Linked DNA regions of Homo sapiens: regions 2, 3 and 4 are each reported to be linked to region 1. Evidence: microRNA targets listed by miRTarBase, many of them from high-throughput screens and not tested one by one. Region 1 holds a microRNA gene; each other region holds the end of a gene's coding sequence.
Evidence for each region. Region 1 holds the annotated microRNA hsa-miR-4277 (GCAGUUCUGAGCACAGUACAC, at 2,041-2,061, shown strand). A microRNA usually pairs through its seed, bases 2 to 8, with sites in the 3' UTR of a target mRNA and lowers its output. Matches are read on the target gene's strand: a 7mer-m8 pairs with bases 2 to 8, a 7mer-A1 pairs with bases 2 to 7 and ends in A, and an 8mer does both.

Region 1 (4,381 bases):
AATGTCCTCCCGTAGCTCAGAGTAATTTGATCGTCTGAAGCCTTCTTCTCTCAGCTCGTCAAAGTCATTCTCCATCCAGCTTTGTTCCGTTGCTGGTGAGGAACTGCATTCCTTTGGAGGAGGAGAGGCGCTCTGCTTTTTAGAGTTTCCAGTTTTTCTGTTCTGTTTTTTCCCCATCTTTGTCGTTTTATCTACTTTTGGTCTTTGATGATGGTGGTGTACAGATGGGTTTTCGGTGTGGATGTCCTTTATGTTTGTTAGTTTTCCTTCTAACAGACAGGACCCTCAGCTGCAGGTCTGTTGGAATACCCTGCCGTGTGAGGTGTCAGTGTGCCCCTGCTGGGGGGTGCCTCCCAGTTAGGCTGCTCCAGGGTCAGGGGTCAGGGACCCACTTGAGGAGGCAGTCTGCCCGTTCTCAGATCTCCAGCTGCGTGCTGGGAGAACCACTGCTCTCTTCAAAGCTGTCAGACAGGGACATTTAAGTCTGCAGAGGTTACTGCTGTCTTTTTGTTTGTCTGTGCCCTGCCCCAAGAGGTGGAGCCTACGGAGGCAGGCAGGCCTCCTTGAGCTGTGGTGGGCTCCACCCAGTTGGAGCTTCCTGGCTGCTTAGTTTACCTAATCAAGCCCGGGCAATGGCGGGCGCCCCTCCCCCAGCCTCGCTGCCGCCTTGCAGTTTGATCTCAGACTGCTGTGCTAGCAATCAGCGAGACTCCGTGGGCGTAGGACCCTCCGAGCGAGGTGCGGGAGATAGTCTCGTGGTGCGCCGTTTTTTAAGCCCGTCGGAAAAGCGCAGTATTCGGGTGGGAGTGACCCGATTTTCCAGGTGCCGTCTGTAACCCATTTCTTTGACTGGGAAAGGGAACTCCCTGACCCCTTGCGCTTCCCGAGTGAGGCAATGCCTCGCCCTGCTTCGGCTCGCGCACGGTGCGCACACACACTGACCTGCGCCCACTGTCTGGCACTCCCTAGTGAGATGAACCCGGTACCTCAGATGGAAATGCAGAAATCACCCGTCTTCTGCATCGCTCACGCTGGGAGCTGTAGACCGGAGCTGTTCCTATTGGGCCATCTTGGCTCCTCTGATTCTATACATATTCTTGAGGGTTGTCCAAGGACAACGTTGAGTTTCTTTGAAACAAGATTGAGCCTTTTGGATCTTGCTTTTAAGCTTTGTTAGGCAGAACCTGAGAGGTGAGCAATTAAGGATGAATTATTCTCCAGTACCGAGGCAACACTCTCCTGTGTGCTCTACCCAATGCGTATTCAACTTTGCCTGGCAGGAGAGGCGGCCGGCCCAGTGTGAGTGCTGGGCATTGACCTCTACTCCTTCCCAGAGCCTCCTTCCCGTTTCGTGAGTCTTTCTCTCGTGCACCGAGCAGCACTCTGTGGCCTGCTCCACCCAGACCTGTTGTGGATCCCAGGAGCTCGTGCCCCACGCCTGTCTCTTTTCTGCAAGACTCTGTAGGGCAAAGGTCACTTTCTCTCACCTCCACAGACTCTCGGCTCTGTCTCCTGCGTTCAGCCAGGCTGTGGGCCGTGCCTGGGCTCCTCTGCCTGTGTCATGGCTCAGAGATTCTCTTCAGGCAGGAAGCTGGAGAGCGTCAGGGCTCAGCTCACTTGCATGTCATCTGTCATGGGTCACTGCCCTTTGCTACCCTATGTGCAGTGTCCTGAGAGCCATTAACAGGGGAGAGACAATTGTGGCCAGATGGGACACCGTGGGATGCCAGTGTGTATGTGGTACCACTGTGGGTGCATAGGTGTGTGTTTTTGCTCTGAGTGTGTGCAGTGTGTGTGTGTGTTATGTGTATGTTATATGTTGTGGAATGTCCAGGTGTGTGGCCTACGGTGTGGGAGGGCAACACTGCAGGGGTACTTTCTGTTCATGGGAGTGGCCAGGTCTGTGCTGCTCCTGAGAGTGGGGAATGTCCAGGCAGCAGGAAGTGCCTTCCCTCCTCCTCCCCTGCGGGTCCTGCCAGTGCTTAGCAGGGAGGAGATGGGGCTGTGACTGCCCGGTCACTTGTCTGGCTCTGGGTCGAGGCAGTTCTGAGCACAGTACACTGGGCTGCCCCCACTGCCCAGTGCCCTGCTCAGCTCAAGTCCTTGTGCCCCTCCATGTCTAGACAAAGCTGCCCCTGGGCGGGCTCCAAGTGGGGGCAGGGGCCGCCTGACAGTGGGGGACAGCAGTGGTTCCACTTGACTCAGCCTGTCTCTGCCTCTTCCTGATGAAAAGCAGCCACTCTGATATCCCACTCAAGTGTGGCTGCCATCTTCCAAGGAGAGCGGGACAAGCAATTGGGTTGGGACAGCAGCAGGGGGCTGGCAAAGGGGGCTCTTTTGCTGAGTTTGGATTTCATGCCTGAAGTGCTCAGCAGAAACCACCCTCGTCCCTGTTTCATCAATCACATATGCTGCACCTCAGCATTCCAGGTGGTTAAGACCTGAGTGGAAAGTCCAGCCAGGCATTAACAAATTCATCTTCTGTGTGCGACTGCAAATTTTGGTTGTCCTTTTCTGATTGAGAGCTGGGAGATTAACCTGATTCTTCATTCCCACAAAGCTCCACAGAGAGATGCACCATGCACATAAACTCGACACACATAGCGAGTACCCAGTGCAGACACACACAACACACACAACAGTGACCAATCACATAGATATGGGCACACAACACAGGCATGTAACACACACAGACATGCCACCTGCACACAAGGCACACACACCACATAACACACATGGGCATTCCACAACACAACACATAACATACACATAACACACACACCGCACACACTCAGGGCAAAAACACACACCTGTGCACACACAGTTGTACCATGTACACATTGGCATCCCACACATGCACACTCACACACACACACACACACTTCTCGATCATGTATGCACAAAACATGGAAGGATGACAATAAAATGTGCAAACTTTGCATCTGGGAAACCCAGCTACAAGCATTAGCCCTCAAAATACCTTTGTTTTCCAAAATTATGTGCCACCGTTTCTTTTACTACAAACATTTCTTCCTGGTAAAGAGGAGAAAATAACTTCAGAAGGTACTAGGCGCTCTGGGCTGAGCTGACCAGCCCCAAGATGGGAGCAGGGGTGTCCAGGAAGGCAACAGGCCCCTGGGCCCCTGTGTGCAGACTGCACATCACCTGTACCCCTGGGGAGTGGCAGCTGGCCACATGTGTGGAGAGGCCAGGCTCAGCCCCGCCGTCCCACGGCACCCAGAAAGCCAGGTTGCAGAGGCTGGCTCCCAGGAGCACGGCCCTCCCTGGGCCCTCGGAGTTAGTACACTGTCTCCAGAAACACCAGCCCCCTGTCCCGTAGCAGAGCGGTCTCTTGCGGGTCTCAGGCCTTCCAGCCTGACTGTCCACCTTTGCAGCCAGCTCCCCTCCCTTGCCGTCTGCTAGGATGACCTCCCACATTGCAAGTGGACCACGTGGGAGCCCTTGGCCATTTGAGAGGTGGTGCTCAGTAAGAGGGCACGTCTTCACATCACTCTGAAAACTCATCGCATGGGAAATAAGGCCACATGTCTTCTCTCGCTGCCTGGTACAACACACGGCTTCACCAGTTTCAAACAATGTGTCCTGTGCTCTGAGCTTCACCTCAAGACCAACTGCACGGTGAGAAAAAGGAAGAGCCATTTGCTATGACACCACGGACAGAGGAGAGGATGTGCAGCTGCCTCCTCAGTCCTTAACCAGCGAACCTGCAGAAAAGCAGCACCTTCAGTCCAGGTGGGAGCTGGCGCAGGCAGTCAGGGTGGGAGGGAGGCACTGCCTGGACCTCTGAGCTCACACAGCCCCTCCCTCTGCAGAAAAGGTCTCCTGTGGCTTCATCTCTCACTGATGCTGAAGTACAGAGGGCTATGCCCCAGGCCTCTCAGAGCACGTGGCTAACCCCAGTTGGGGCTGTCTCCCTCTTGCACACGTGGGCCCATTGAGGGCCAGTGCCCTGTGGCTCTCTCTGGGGTCCCTTGTTCCACAAGGCACGGTGGCAGAAACCAGTGTCCAAGACCTGCATTCCATAACTCCCCAGAGGGTCTTCCACAGCCTAGTGCTCAACTCTGCACTTATGAAATTATTAAAGTGAATCAATGTGTGATTTTGCAAACCCACAGTTTCGAGGAGAGATTGAGTGATCTCTGTAGACAATTTCTTGGCGGTATCAGGGGAGAGATCGTCAGCATCAGAGAAACAGTCCGTCACCATCGAAAGGGATTCCCGCTCCTTCTCCACATCATGAGTTCTGCTAACAATGACTAAGCAATGGCAATTTGTAGTCAGCATTACAGGCTAAGATTATGAACAGGGTTAGCCTGTGTTACACACTGCAAGACTGCAAAGGGGAACGACTGTGCGTCGT
Region 2 (4,381 bases), not on the chromosome of region 1:
ATCAATTCATGTTGTAAGTTTTCAGTTACATGTCTGCTGATCTCATTGAGGAAGTGAAATTCATCTTTTCACTTTTCCTTCCCTCTTCTCCCCCTCCAAGTGCTTAACAGGGTCTAGAGCACAGTACATCCTCAATAAATGCCCAGTGGTAGAAACAAAGGCTGCCAAAGGCGTGGCCTCTGCCTCCATGTCAATTCAGTCTTCACTGGAGCAGAGATGAAACCAAGGAGCCCCAGGAGGCCTTACCTTCCCAATCATTGGGAGTAGAGGTTGATGGAGGATAAATTTGGTCATGGGATCCCACGTCTCTGTCTGCCAACTCCCTCCCTCGTTTTCCTTGCAGAAAGTCCAGGTAGTGGTCACCGTGCTGGACTATGACAAGCTGGGCAAGAACGAAGCCATAGGCAAGATCTTCGTGGGCAGCAATGCCACGGGCACAGAGCTGCGGCACTGGTCCGACATGCTGGCCAACCCCCGGAGGCCCATCGCCCAGTGGCACTCGCTCAAGCCTGAGGAGGAGGTGGATGCACTCCTGGGCAAGAACAAGTAGACAGCAGCGGCTGGGACCCCACACCTTTCACGGACACTGACAAGATCCAGAGCTATCAATACCTCAGTTATGCAACCTTAGAGGTTTTCTTTTTTCTTTCATTTGTTGGGTGGTTGTGTCCTTGTTTTTCCTTGTTTTTCTCTTTTTAAAGACCAACTTCCCTTTGATGGCTGTGTGAGGAGAGTCCCCTAAGAGGTGAAAGAGAAGCCTGGCTCTGTTCACGGTCCCAGGAGCTGTCCTTGCTGCATGCCCTGTCACAGTTCCCTCGACTCTTTCAAAGCTTCACATCTGCCTCACCCCAAGCGAGGCTCTCTACTGGCACAAACTTGCAGCAGTTCCTGTTTTTTGAGCCTTCTGGACCAACAAAATGGCAGCACATCCTGCTTCCTGACAGGGAAGGCATCACAGTGGCCAATGATCGTGTGTGTGTGTGTGTGTGTGTGTGTGTATGTGTGTGTGTGTGTGTGTGTGTGTGTGTGTGTGTGTGTCTTTGAGCATTTCTCTTCATTCCTGGAATGTGTGTGTGTGTGTGTCTCTTTGAGCATCTCTCTTCATTCCTGGAATGAGCCATGGACAGTAAAGTTGTGTGGGAAAAGAAGGCTCTTTGGGGACCCTGACATGAAGAAGTCCACTAAGTGGGAGATCTTCTCTCATCTATGGCAAAGTCTCAGGATCCTGTTCAGATATCGGGGCTTTCATACTCCTGTTGGTGGCTATTTGGGAGGCAGCAAGATGTGAAGACTGGATGTGTTCAGAACTAGGACCAAACGATGCCATCAAATACTTCCTCCTGCCAGTCATGGTTTCCCCAGAAGTGTAGTTCCTGGGACATTCATGGATATGAGCTATTCACTAGTTGGGTCAGACTAACAGGGACTCTCAGTCCCAAAATCTCACTCTTATTGACAATAAATATCAAACTATGAAGAAACAGAAGTCCCATTACCAGAAAGACCAAAATTAAACTCCTGGATCTTCACCCCATCCAGTGGGAAACACAGATGCTTTCTCCCTTTCCAGAATATAAGCAGCCAAGTTCATTTGCATTTATTCCCCATTGTGCTTTTGCTTCTGTTTCTCTTTTAAGTGGAGCAACACTGTCTGAAGACACGTTATCTGTGCAGAGCCAGAGAACTTTAAAAGGAAAGTTTAAATGTTCTTAGTTCTCCTGAGGTCCAGGTAAGAAGGGGGTGGTAAGAAGAGGATGGGGGACAGATGGCTGAGATCCCTTGGGAGGAGATATAGGGGAGCACTGGAATTCCCCCGACTCCCACTCCTTGCTCCCTTGGCCCTCTGCCCTCCATGCTGGAGAGCTGATAGGTAGCTGGAGTGGCCCAGGGAGACCTATGGGAAGGACCCGTCCTACCATTAGGGGGCTTCTCTCTATGAATGCTAAGAAACAAAGGGCATCCATTCCAAATGAGTAGCAGAGGTGACCTTCTAGGGTTTCTACCCATGCTCAGTTGTATCCCATTCCCTGTTCACCTTTTGTCCCCAGCACTGATATAAAAGCCATATATATGTTAGTCAGGTTTGCACTGAGTCTTCTTCCAATCCTTCAGCCTGGACAACAGAGTGAGGTCCCCTTGTGGCCAGAGGCCAGCCCTCCTTGCCTGCCTTCCTTTGACCTCTCTTTTCCATCCATGAAGCCCTCAGGCCCTTGCCATTTTTTCACCACAGAAAACTCATGGCTTCTCCAGAAGCCTGAGTATCTCTCTTTCCCAGCACAAATGGCAGCATCTCTATCCTGCCCCATCTGGGCCACTTCAGCTTCCTGTAGACACCCAAGACAGATGGACAGTGTTGGAGGGAATCAGGCTTTGAGGATCCAGTGTGAAGAAGTTGCAGAGTGTCTTTTTATTTTATTTTAAAAAGGGGGAAGGGGCTTTTGGTTTTGCTTTGTTTTTTGGATGAAGGAGTGAGGGAAATGAGGGAATACCCCCACCAGAAACAGACTGGAAAGCCTGCCTGTCTCTTGGAGATCCTTCTTTGTCTTGTTAGTGGTACATGGGAAGTTATGTTTTTACTGGTGTGTGTGTGTGTGTGTGTGTGTGTACTTAATGATGGGAAGGTAAGACTCTGATCAGGATTATGAACTGCGGTCCTTGGGACCAAAGGTGTGGTCATGGTAGAGAGTTGTAGGACAATAGGGTGTTTTCAGAATCTGGGTGGCCACAGAGTGGGATTTCCTGGTATGGACATCAGAAGTCACTGGACTCTTCTCCCAACCCCAGAGTTATGGGATTTTGGTGCTTTCTCAGGGTCTCTCCCCAGACTCACTCTTCTCACCCATATCCCACAGACTCACTCATGGAGACCCCCTTGTCAATATCCCCTCTACCTTTACTCCTTTGCCCTTTCCCAATTCATCTTCTACCACCTGGATTCTTTTCCATTCATGAACTTCATTCAGCCCTTCCAAAGCCCAAGATTTGCATTCCCTTGACAGGGAGGAAAGGCAATGGTAGGAACCTCTGGTGGTCTGGGTGTCTATGTGCCTGGTGACCAGGGCTGGATTTTTATTACTCTGAGCCCACTGCTAGTGAGGAGCCTTGAGGGGTGGGGACAGGTTGCTGAGTGATTTTGAACGTTGACACCAGTGTGGAGCCAGTGTGGGTGTGGGGAGCAGTGCCTTCCTCAGGTCCCAGCTGGTCCTGATATGCCACGTAGTGGATGGCATCTGTCTTGGTCCATGGGCTTGGTGGGAACATGCTTCTGCTTGTGTGTTTTCCATACCTGAGGGCTGACGTAGCTTAAACCACAGGGCATCATGCCAAACACTCACTGCTGGGCAGGTTTATTTCTGGGGATGTCAGGGTACTGGGGTGTAGGCACTAAGCAGGATAGAGTTAGGGTGTCTGGCTAGTAAGGGGTTCTGGACGCCTCTGGGGCTGTGAGTTTTCATCTCAAAGTCTGTTCCAGAGAAAGGAAAGTAGTATAGAGGTGATTTTTAGAGAAGCTGAGACCATGAAAACAAGCCTAATCCCATCCAGAAACTGGGGTAAAGTCTGAAAGTTCGTTTTCTTCTTCCTCCCTGAATAATTGTTCCAGAAGGGATGCTAACTCTGCCAGAGCTACAGGCAGATTTTTGGGCTTTGGAAGTGGAAGCTGAGGCCTGGGGAAGGCTGGGTAAGGAATGCTGGGGCAATCTCAGACAGTAGGCAGGTGCTTGGCATGAATGAGAAGTGACTTTCCTGGAGTCCCTCAGTAGAGGATGAGATAGCAGGGATTAGGCCACAGTCTCAGATCCTGATCTTTTTTCTTCCTAGGAAAGCATACATAACTTGTGTCTGCAGAATCAGTGTGGGATGATTTTGCTGGCCCAAGGCTTCAGCGAGAGGGAGAAGAGAGGTCACTACAGCCCTCCTGTGGGTAAAAGCAGCTCTCTTATAAACCTGCCTCCATGCAGTGGGGTGGGGGTAAGGGTGGGTGACAGCAAAGAGGTTGAGGAACCTCCCTGGGTTTGGGGAGTGAGAGCTTCCATGTTCCCTTAATGTCCTAGGTTAATTCATAAGGCATCTGAGTCCTGGGTCTCACCCAGCCTCACAGAGAGAAAAACTGTCCCTGAGGGTGTCCCCTCCCACTCAAAGGTAGAAAGAGATTGAGCCAGGAACTGCCCTCATATCCTCTGCTCTGCCCCTTCCCTTCCCTTTCCTCTGCCCCTCCCACCTAAAGCTGTTTGGGGCCCTTTCTCAGAGCCCTGGGTGGTGGCAGGCAGGGAGGAGTCCCAAGATCCTGGTGGCCCTGAGCCCCATGCTATGGTTGCCAGATTTGGCAAATAAAAATACAGGATGTCCAGTTACATTTGAATTTCAGTTCAACAACAAACAA
Region 3 (4,361 bases), not on the chromosome of region 1:
AAGATCCTAAGCACTGAATGGTTTCCAAATTTTAATTGGGATGATCACCAAATGTGGGTGCCTGTTATCTCCAATACCTAATTTGTTACATATCTGTGATTCATAGGTACTGGAAGATGCTCACAGAGATGCCAACCTGCACCATGTAGCTTGTAATATAGTGAAAAAACCTGGCAACATTTACTATCTCTATAAACGGGAGAGTGGTCAGCAGTATTTTTCCATCATTTCTCCAAAGGTAAGAACATACATTGTTTGCCCAAAAATCTACTCCAGCCTCTGAGAAATTCTTGGTATATGTGTGAAAATGTAGACATGTGGATTGGTATATGGTTTCTTAGAAAATTGGGGGTGATGTGAGCCCAGACATGACTCTAAAAAATATACCTGTGCTTAAATTATTTCACTCATTTTCTTCATTAAGGGAGGGATCTGATGTGTAAGGTAACTGCGTTCCAAAGGTTGTTCTGACTAGTATGAAGTGAAAAGCCAAAAAAGAGATTGTGGCATGATTAGGAAATGAGCTCAGTTTGTTTACAACCCACGCTGATGGGAACTGCCTCCTTTGCCTTCTCTAGGAATGGGGGACAAGTTGTCCACATGACTTCCTTGGTGCCTACAAACTACAGCATGACTTGTCCTGGACTCCGTATGAGGACATTGAGAAGCAAGATGCTAAAATCAGCATGATGGACACGTTGCTAAGCCAGTCAGTGGCCCTGCCTCCGTGCACTGAACCCAACTTCCAGGGACTGACTCACTGAGAGTGGGCTTTGACAAACAGCTCTCACAGGACCTGGCTGTCAACCTCCTTGTTGCCCCCACTGTTGCCTTGAGAATTGAAGACATGTAGGTGACTCACAAACTTCTTGGAAAGAGACCCTGTGTGAATGTAAATGCTGTCATTATGACTTTTAATTGGGATGGGAATAATCATTGAGACAGAGTCACTGTCTTTCGGGATCCTCTTTGGACCACAGATACCCAAGTCAGTCAGTTTCAGAGTATTGGCCAGTGTACTTTCCTTCTTCCTCTCCATCACTTCTTCCCTTAAGTTAAAGTGTTAGAGAAGACCTTCTTCCCATAAAAAGGTTGGTGGATCGTTTTCCAGAGAGAACTGTTTTCAGTCTTTTATATATATATATATATATATATAACTGGTAGTATTTAACATTGGGGTTGAGGCTGTCTCACAGTTGGTGCAACTCCAGTTTAAAATTCATCTGGGAACGAGAATGTTGAGTAATGGAGGGTGATTTAAAAAACAACAACAACAACAAAAAAAAAAACACTTGGCTTGGCTGGACCAGAGAGTGTGTGATTCTGGGATTTCTGTGCTGTTGATGAGGTTTGTCTTGCCCCTTTTGCTCTCTCTGCCTTGCTAGAGTGACAGAATCTGAGGCAGCAAAGGCCAGGTTTGGGGAGAGTCAACTTTGAAACTCACAAATTTTAGACTTGGAAGAGACATTGGATGCTGCCACTAATCATTATAGAGTCCACTGTGTAGTCTCCCAAGTTGGAAATCCCAGGCTCAGCCACCTGCAGCAGAACAAACCCATTTAAATGGCTACTTAACACTGTGGAAGAGAGTAAGGCAGTAGAGTGAGAAGCAAGAAAAACAGCCAAATTGTTGACTGTGAGTTAACTCAGATTGAAATCCATTTTGACCAGAATTATTCAAGAACTTAACAGGGTTTTGGCAAAATTACTGTAGTTCTTATTCTGACTAGGCTCTTGTAGGACTCTACCTTCTTTCCTATCTGTTTGGTGGAATTAGCTAAGTTTATGGATTATTTCGCATGGCTATAATCTATTGCAATATGCTGTAAAAGGAGGGAGAGATGTGTACTTGAACTGACAATTGGCCAAATTTCTCTCTGGGAATGATGTTCCTGATGCTGATCTGTTTGGTAATACCCTCCCCGGGCCGCCCCCCGATTCATGGTCTTTCCTCATAAACTGCATTTCTTGTGAGCTGTAAGAGGTCTACCTAAGGCCTAGCACAGGATGGGGCTAGAATCTAACAAACTCACTCCGATGATACTTGGTTGCTCGGTTCACATGGGAATGCTCTTTGGACTCAGCTGCAGAGGTCTTTTGCTCAGGTGCTGCAGAGCCGGATGGAAGAGACATTAGTGGTAGAGTAGTGGATTCTGACTACAGAAAGTTTCCCAGGTTTTCAGAAGGTTCTGACCTGCATGATGATGACACATTTTGAATAGGTGCTTTATTAGTTACAGATAAACAAATTACTGCAAACTTAATGGTTTAAAGCAACACCTATTTATTTCAGAGCTTACAGGTTAGGAGTTCAGGCACCATTTCATTGAGTCCTCTGCTTCACAGTTTCTCTGAAACCCTGGAAGGCTGAAATCAAGTTATTGGTCAGGGCTGTTCTTATCTGAAGGCCTGAGTGGGGAAGGATCTGCTTCCAAGCTCACTTAAATTGTTAGCAGAATTTCTTTTCTTTCCTTTCTTTTTTTTTGAGACAGAGTCTCGCTGTATTGCCAGGCCTGAGTACAGTGGCTCAATCTCAGCTTACCGCAACCTCCGCCTCCTGGTTCAAGTGATTCTCCTGCCTCAGCCTCCTCAGTAGCTGAGATTACAGGCGCACGCCACCATGCCCAGCTAATTTTTTTATTTTTAGTAGAGACAGGGTTTCACCATGTTGGCCAGGAGGGTCTCTATCTCTTGACCTCATGATCCACCTGCCTCAGCCTCCCACAGTGCTGGCGTTTGAGCCACCATACCTGGCCTGTTGGCAGAATTTCAATTCCACAAGGGTTGCTGGCTTCCGGGGTTCCACTAGCTGACTGTTGGCTGGAGGTTGCCCTCACTTCCTTGCCACACGAGCCTCTATAACATGGCAGCTTTCTTAAGCAAAGTAAACAAGGATTAGAGTCTGCTAGCCAGATGGAAGTTACAGTCTCATGTAGTCTGATCACAGAAGTGACATTTCATCACCTTTGCCGTAATCTTTTGGTTGGAAGCAAGTCACTAGGCTAGCCCATATTCAAGGGAGGGAGTTATACAAAGGCATGTATACCAGAAGGCAGACATCATTGAATCATTGAACAGATCCTAGAATCTATCTGCCACAGTGCTCAGTTGAGAAGAAGAAAGGAAAATTCTAGGTAAAAAAGGCAATATTACTAAGTGGTTAAGTGTGATGATGTCAAAGTCACAGATCTGCACTTGACTGTCAACTCTGACAAGACAGCCTCCCAGCTGGCATCCCTGCTTCCCCCTCTGTCCCCTCTCCAATCCATTCTGCATGCAGTCATCAGCTTGATCATTTGAAAATGCCAAATCTCCCTCACTCTTGACATTTCCTAACCTAAAGAGTGGGAGAGTAGTGATTGAAAAGAGAGAAACTGCCTTCTGTTCAGTAAGATGTACTCCCTGCACTGACCACCAAGGGGTGTCATTGCTCTTTCCTGGTTAAGCCAGTTACCACACTTGGGAAGGGCTAGTGGCAATGTGAGGTGATTTGGGGCACCTCAGAATGGGAAACTAGGACCCAGTGATTATATACAGTAATCACTTTTCATTTACCCATCCATCTGTTCACCTGATAATTTCATTAGTGTTAAGTGCCTTCTAGGTTCCAGGTTCTGGTGAATAATGGAGCTGAATAAGAAATCACAATTTCCAGGGAGCTCACAGTATAGTAGGGAAGGAAACAAGTTAACAATTACAAGATGCTCTAAGAAGGGGTGTGATAGAGGTACGCATGGAATACTATGGAGCTCCGGGGAGGGGTTCCTTACTGAGCTTGGAGAATTTGGGAAGACACTTGGAGGAGCTGATGCCTGCTTGGTGTTGAAAACCATACAAGTTAGAACTTTCTGGAGGCTCCAATTGCCCTTTCATAGGAAGTTTGTCTTTTGGGGGTTGGGGTAGGGTTCATTTTTGGATGGAGTTTATTTGTGAATGAAGAAAGTGACAACCATTTAAGCCATATCAACCAAAGCAGTCCTGGCAATGAGGAGGGGTGGAGTGAGATATGTCCTGGCTAGAAAATCCTTGTGTTTAAAAGCTAGGAGATAGTTGAAGACAGGGAGGAAAAAACATTCCAGACAAAAAATAACATGGAAGGGACATTGACCAGAATTGACACGACATTTGGGGAATCGCAGCCAGTTAAACAGGAGAATATGGACTGGGGAATATGAGAGAAGAACTAATGGAAGGATTTGGGGAGGCTGGTAATATTGGCAGCAGAGTTTGGGTAGAGGGAAGACAGGAGATTCCATCCCTAATCAAGGCAAGGGATGATGGGAGTCTGAATTAAGCAGTAGTAGAATGAGAGGGCCTGTATTTCACCAATTACAAGGTGTACTTCCCCCCCCCCCCCCCCC
Region 4 (4,372 bases), not on the chromosome of region 1:
CTACAATGGTAAGAGGAAGAGATTATAAATATGTGTGCTTTTTAATTTCTCTAAAATGTTACATCATTTTCCAATAAAGAAAAAAGCATTTTAAGTAGGAACCCAAAAAAATCCCATACTTGGGACCTGCGTCCTAGTCTCAACTTTTTCCTCCAGGGGCCCAAGGCTTCCTGTGCCCAGTTCCTAAGGCTCCGGTGGCATCTGTTGGAGAAGGTGAACAGTATCCTGAACCCCTTAGTCAGGAGGACACATTCTAGAATCTAGAAGGTGCTGTCTTGGTCAGATCAGACCCTGAGAGAACAGCTGTAGCTACCAATTGAATCAGATTCATTCATTCATGCAGCATTCACTCATTCATCCATATACTTTTTGAATCACTGTTATATGCAAGGAACTTTTAAAGAATTACTCTGACCCAATGTATGAATTTGGAATAATCTCCAAAATACTATATAAGAAAGCAAGCTTCAGAACACTGTGTATAGAATTCTACTATTTGTATTAAAAATAGATATATAAATATACATATTTATAAACTTGTAAATGCATAGAATTGCTATGAAAGGATACACAACATATAGATAACAGTGATTAACTCTGGAGAGGGGACTAGAGGCTGACCTCCATGGGGAAGCTTACCATTTATTGTATACCCTTTTGTATTGTGGAATGTCTTACCATGTATATGTATTAATTTTTCAAAACAAAAAAACAAACAAACAAAAAAAGAAACTGCCTGGTGCTGAATATACAGTGGTGAACAGGACAGAGGTTCCCCAGTCTTGGGGAAGGCAAAGTGTTGAGCTTACTGGGCCACAATTATCAAATTTTTTAAAACCAGACTGTTTACATAAGTTAAGGGGAAAGTTCTTTCTACAACAATTAGCTTATAATAATTCAGCATATCATTTTACAGAGATAAAGCAGTTGGAAAATAAATACTAAGTAATTTGTCAAGTCTTAGACTGTATTAAGTTGTAGTTTCTACAAGGGAAGGGATCTTATCTGTTTAACTTGATCAGTAGAGCATTCACTGCAGCATAATGTGCAGATAAACGCTTGTTACAGCAAGCATTTTCTGATGATGACAAATGATAGCACAACCATTTAAAAAAATCTTGAAAAAGAAAAGACCAGAAGATGCTGGACTCTGAGGGAACTGTGTGTTCCCTGTGAGGGTTAGGCAACCTTTTCTAGACAGTCCTCAAAAAATGATGGTGTTCAAATGGCAAGGTAAATCCCAATGAGAATGAAAGGTTGTAGAGATACCACGTTTCGAAATGTCAACGGTGTGATGCTCGAGGCCCTCCTTGGGGTGACAAGGCACAGATGGACTCCAAAGAGAACCTGGCACTTGGCAGGGCACCCCAACTGCATGGGAAGTAGGAAAGCAAATGTCTGGGGGGCTGCAAACCACTGACAAGCTGGCAGCCTGTCAAAGCAGCCTTGGTCACTAACGAGCACAGTGGTTGACAGGCTTGACTCAGCACCATCACTACAGGTAGCCTCTGCACATCGTTTAACCTCTCGGAGCCTCGGTTTCTTCTCCGTAAAATGGAGGACAACTGTGAGATCTTTGTGAGGATTAAAGGAGAGAATCACCAGAAAGTGTTCAGTAAGATGCTAGGCACACAAGGAGGGCTTAAAATGCTATCTTCACTCTTACTAAAGAATGGCTAGGTGTCTGGGCCACTTCATAACTGCTAATCAGCATCCAAGTCCAAACAGCAGACAAAATGTGCTCCACCCTCCATGCCCTAAGGTCAAGTAAAGATTTCCCCACATTCATATAGTGTTTTATAAACTAGAAAATACTTTCACATTCATAAGCTCACAAAAGCCTGTGAAGCCAGTTGGATGGGAATTACTAACTCTATTGTGAAGGAGAGGAGACAGTGAGGTTAAGGGATTTGTTAAGAGCTGGCTAAGGACAGAATCCAGGCCAGGACCCAGGTTTTCCAGGGACTGGCTCAGCATTTTTCCAACTCACGTTCTTCCCAGGAAGGAGATGTATATCTGGGGTCACGACAGGTGGTCAAACCTGCAATTCTACCATCTCTGCCTGCTCTCCAGCTACCACTGTGTCTGAGCAGGAAGGGATCCAGCCAGTCATTTCAAACCCTTCTATCAGCCTCCTCTGGAACCCATTCCTGTGAATGGACCCAGGGTACAGGGATGGCTTCCTGTAACTAGAATTAGGCATGGGACAACAGCTACGGCAGGTCTAGGTCTGGCTTTGCAGGTAGCTGGAAACAGGCCTGGGTTGCCCCACTGCCAGCTGGGGAGGCAGGGAAGTGGCAGCCTTGCCAGGAAGAGCAATTATTAAAAGGGTGCAGACAGCGAGAGTCTCTCTGAAAGTGAGGCAACCTTTCCCACTGCCATTAGCATTTCCACTAAAAACTTGGCATTTGATAGAGGGGAAAAAATGTATTTTTTCAACTGTGAAAAGGTCAGGCATATTTATCTGACTTAATAATTTATAATTGATATTTAATGCCTCCTTGAAAGATGACCTCTAAGCACCCGGCCAGCACCCTCTTCCCTTTACTCCACTACATCCTGCTGGGCGCAACCCCATGCCACCTGGGTTAGAGGTCAGACGACACCTCCACACAGCCTGCTCCTCGTGCTTGGGTGGGCCCTGACTCCACCATCAGTGAAAAGACAGCCAGTCTCCCAAGTCTAATCCCAGTTCTGCCACATTTGAGTTCTCTGTGGCAGTAGCGATGCTGTAAGAAATAAGAAACCTCTTGAATGCTATAAGAAAATTATAAAATTCCTCTTCTCCACCCCCTTTTCCCTTTTTACCAGTAAGGGGTTCTCTTATGTTGAAAATCAACTGAAGGAAAGATGAAGGTGCCTAGAAAATTTCGATACGCCCTAAAGCCAATGTCACTAGCCTGGAGATCTTGGAGGTGACTTGACCATTGTGGAGCCGCTCCCCTCACCCCTTCAGAAGGTCTCTAGAGAACTAAGTAGTACAGGGCTCCCGGTTTCCTAACCACAAGCTCCAGAATCTAGAGAAGGCCTTCCTTAGACAGTAGGAAGTATTGTTCTCCCTCAGAGATGGGACAAACAGGGGAAGTCTGGGAAAGACCCTTGGGTGGAATAGGGTGGGGCCAGGCTCACTTGGAGAGGAATACAAGAGCCTACCTGCATGGTGAGAAGATTTTTTATTTGAAATATAGTCTGAGCAACATGAGTGTAGCCAAGAGGAGTAGGGGCTGGCCTGCCTGGGGCAGCAGCCTCTCAAATGGCACGAGAGCAGTACAAATATTCCAATGTCTGTGTGCCCCAACCCCACCTGTCAGGAAAGGCAGAACAGCAGAACAAAGACCCACCCACAGCGCCTTCTCAAGGGGTCTGGTTCTTGGTGCCTGCCTGCCTTTGCCTTACCTCCTGCTCTGCCCAGGTTCCAAACAGAGGTGTGCAGCAGAGGTTTCTCCCACCCCACCCACAGAGACATGATGAGCCAGTGTGACAATTAGTTCTCAGGACTATTTTGAGGGAAAAGAATCAGAGAAGACAGGGAGGAGGGGCAAGGTGATCAAGGGCCCTCGCCAAACCAGACTAGGCAGAGCTCTCCCAGAGGGACTGTGTCAGCACCCCTCATTTCCCTCCTTCTCAGGATCTAAAGGCAGGAAGGAGAGCTGGTGTCTGCAGGAAAATAGAGCTCTGAGGAGCGCCCTGGCTGAAGGCAGCAAGCGGGAACCTCCCAGAAGAGCACAGCCGCTGTGGGGTTCAAGCCTAGTTGACAGCAGTGGGGTTGGGCCACATAAGCAGCTTGGGGTTGGAAGGACACAGACAAGAGATGGGGCACCAAGAAGCAGCGAAAAGCCATAAATAACAGAAGCAAATTCAGAGCTGTGAGGGTCCTGGCCGACCCCACATTTCCTGGGGCTGGGGGATACCCAGCACTGGCAGCTCAGGGCAGACACTACTCCAGGGTACAACCGGTCACACTCACACTGGGGGCAGAGCCTTTTATTTTCCACGGTCCGCAGGGCAGGTGGAAGACACTTCGGCACCACCCCTGACCATGCACACTGCAAAGTCTCCGGTCACACCTGAGGGGACAGTGTGTGGCTGTCCTGGTCCTGAGAGGCCTGTGGTTGACTGTGATCATTGTGGCCACCATCGTCCTCAGGGGCCGGGCCCAGCAATCTCCTCGCCTCTGGGTCAGCTGACAAAGGCTCACCGGCACATTCTTCCAGTCCATTCTCTCTAGTCTCCATGGGCACCTCCTCCCCGGAGCCCTCCTCTGGCTCTGCCACCTCCACTGCCATCTCCGCTGCCGCCGCCTCCTCTTCCTCCTCCTCCTCCTGGTCTCTCACCTTGTGGACAATGAAGAGGTGGCGGCTGAGGGAGCTGG

Region 2: the mRNA of SYT2 is a reported target of hsa-miR-4277. The part of its 3' UTR that is shown has no 7-base or 8-base seed match.
Region 3: the mRNA of C1orf50 is a reported target of hsa-miR-4277. Seed matches in the 3' UTR shown: 7mer-m8 at 1,114-1,120 and 7mer-A1 at 1,852-1,858.
Region 4: miRTarBase lists ZNF592 as a target of hsa-miR-4277. Seed matches in the 3' UTR shown: 7mer-m8 at 2,690-2,696.

What each region holds. Positions count from the first base shown.
Region 1 is chr5:1,706,518-1,710,898 of GRCh38, reverse strand. It overlaps MIR4277 (microRNA 4277), which reads left to right and starts at 2,031; the gene lies at 2,031-2,114. All of the region lies in intron 3 of LOC105374614 (a long non-coding RNA gene), which reads left to right. RefSeq lists enhancers at 351-914, 915-1,479, 1,480-2,043, 2,764-3,263, 3,264-3,765 and a silencer at 2,007-2,162.
Region 2 is chr1:202,592,926-202,597,306 of GRCh38, reverse strand. SYT2 (synaptotagmin 2) reads left to right here. Exons shown (of 9, transcript NM_177402.5): 9 at 344-4,381. The coding sequence ends at 550. Among named protein-coding and RNA genes, the nearest start is that of SYT2, 120 kb to the left of the region's middle.
Region 3 is chr1:42,774,631-42,778,991 of GRCh38, forward strand. It overlaps C1orf50 (chromosome 1 open reading frame 50), which reads left to right. Exons shown (of 5, transcript NM_024097.4): 4 at 107-238; 5 at 579-4,361. The coding sequence ends at 764. It overlaps TMEM269-DT (TMEM269 divergent transcript), which reads right to left. Exons shown (of 4, transcript NR_133055.2): 3 at 2,034-2,194; 4 at 1,183-1,539. Among named protein-coding and RNA genes, the nearest start is that of TMEM269-DT, 8.1 kb to the right of the region's middle.
Region 4 is chr15:84,802,083-84,806,454 of GRCh38, reverse strand. ZNF592 (zinc finger protein 592) reads right to left here. Exons shown (of 11, transcript NM_014630.3): 11 at 10-4,372. The coding sequence ends at 4,062. Among named protein-coding and RNA genes, the nearest start is that of ALPK3, 13 kb to the left of the region's middle. RefSeq lists enhancers at 1,812-2,311, 2,312-2,813.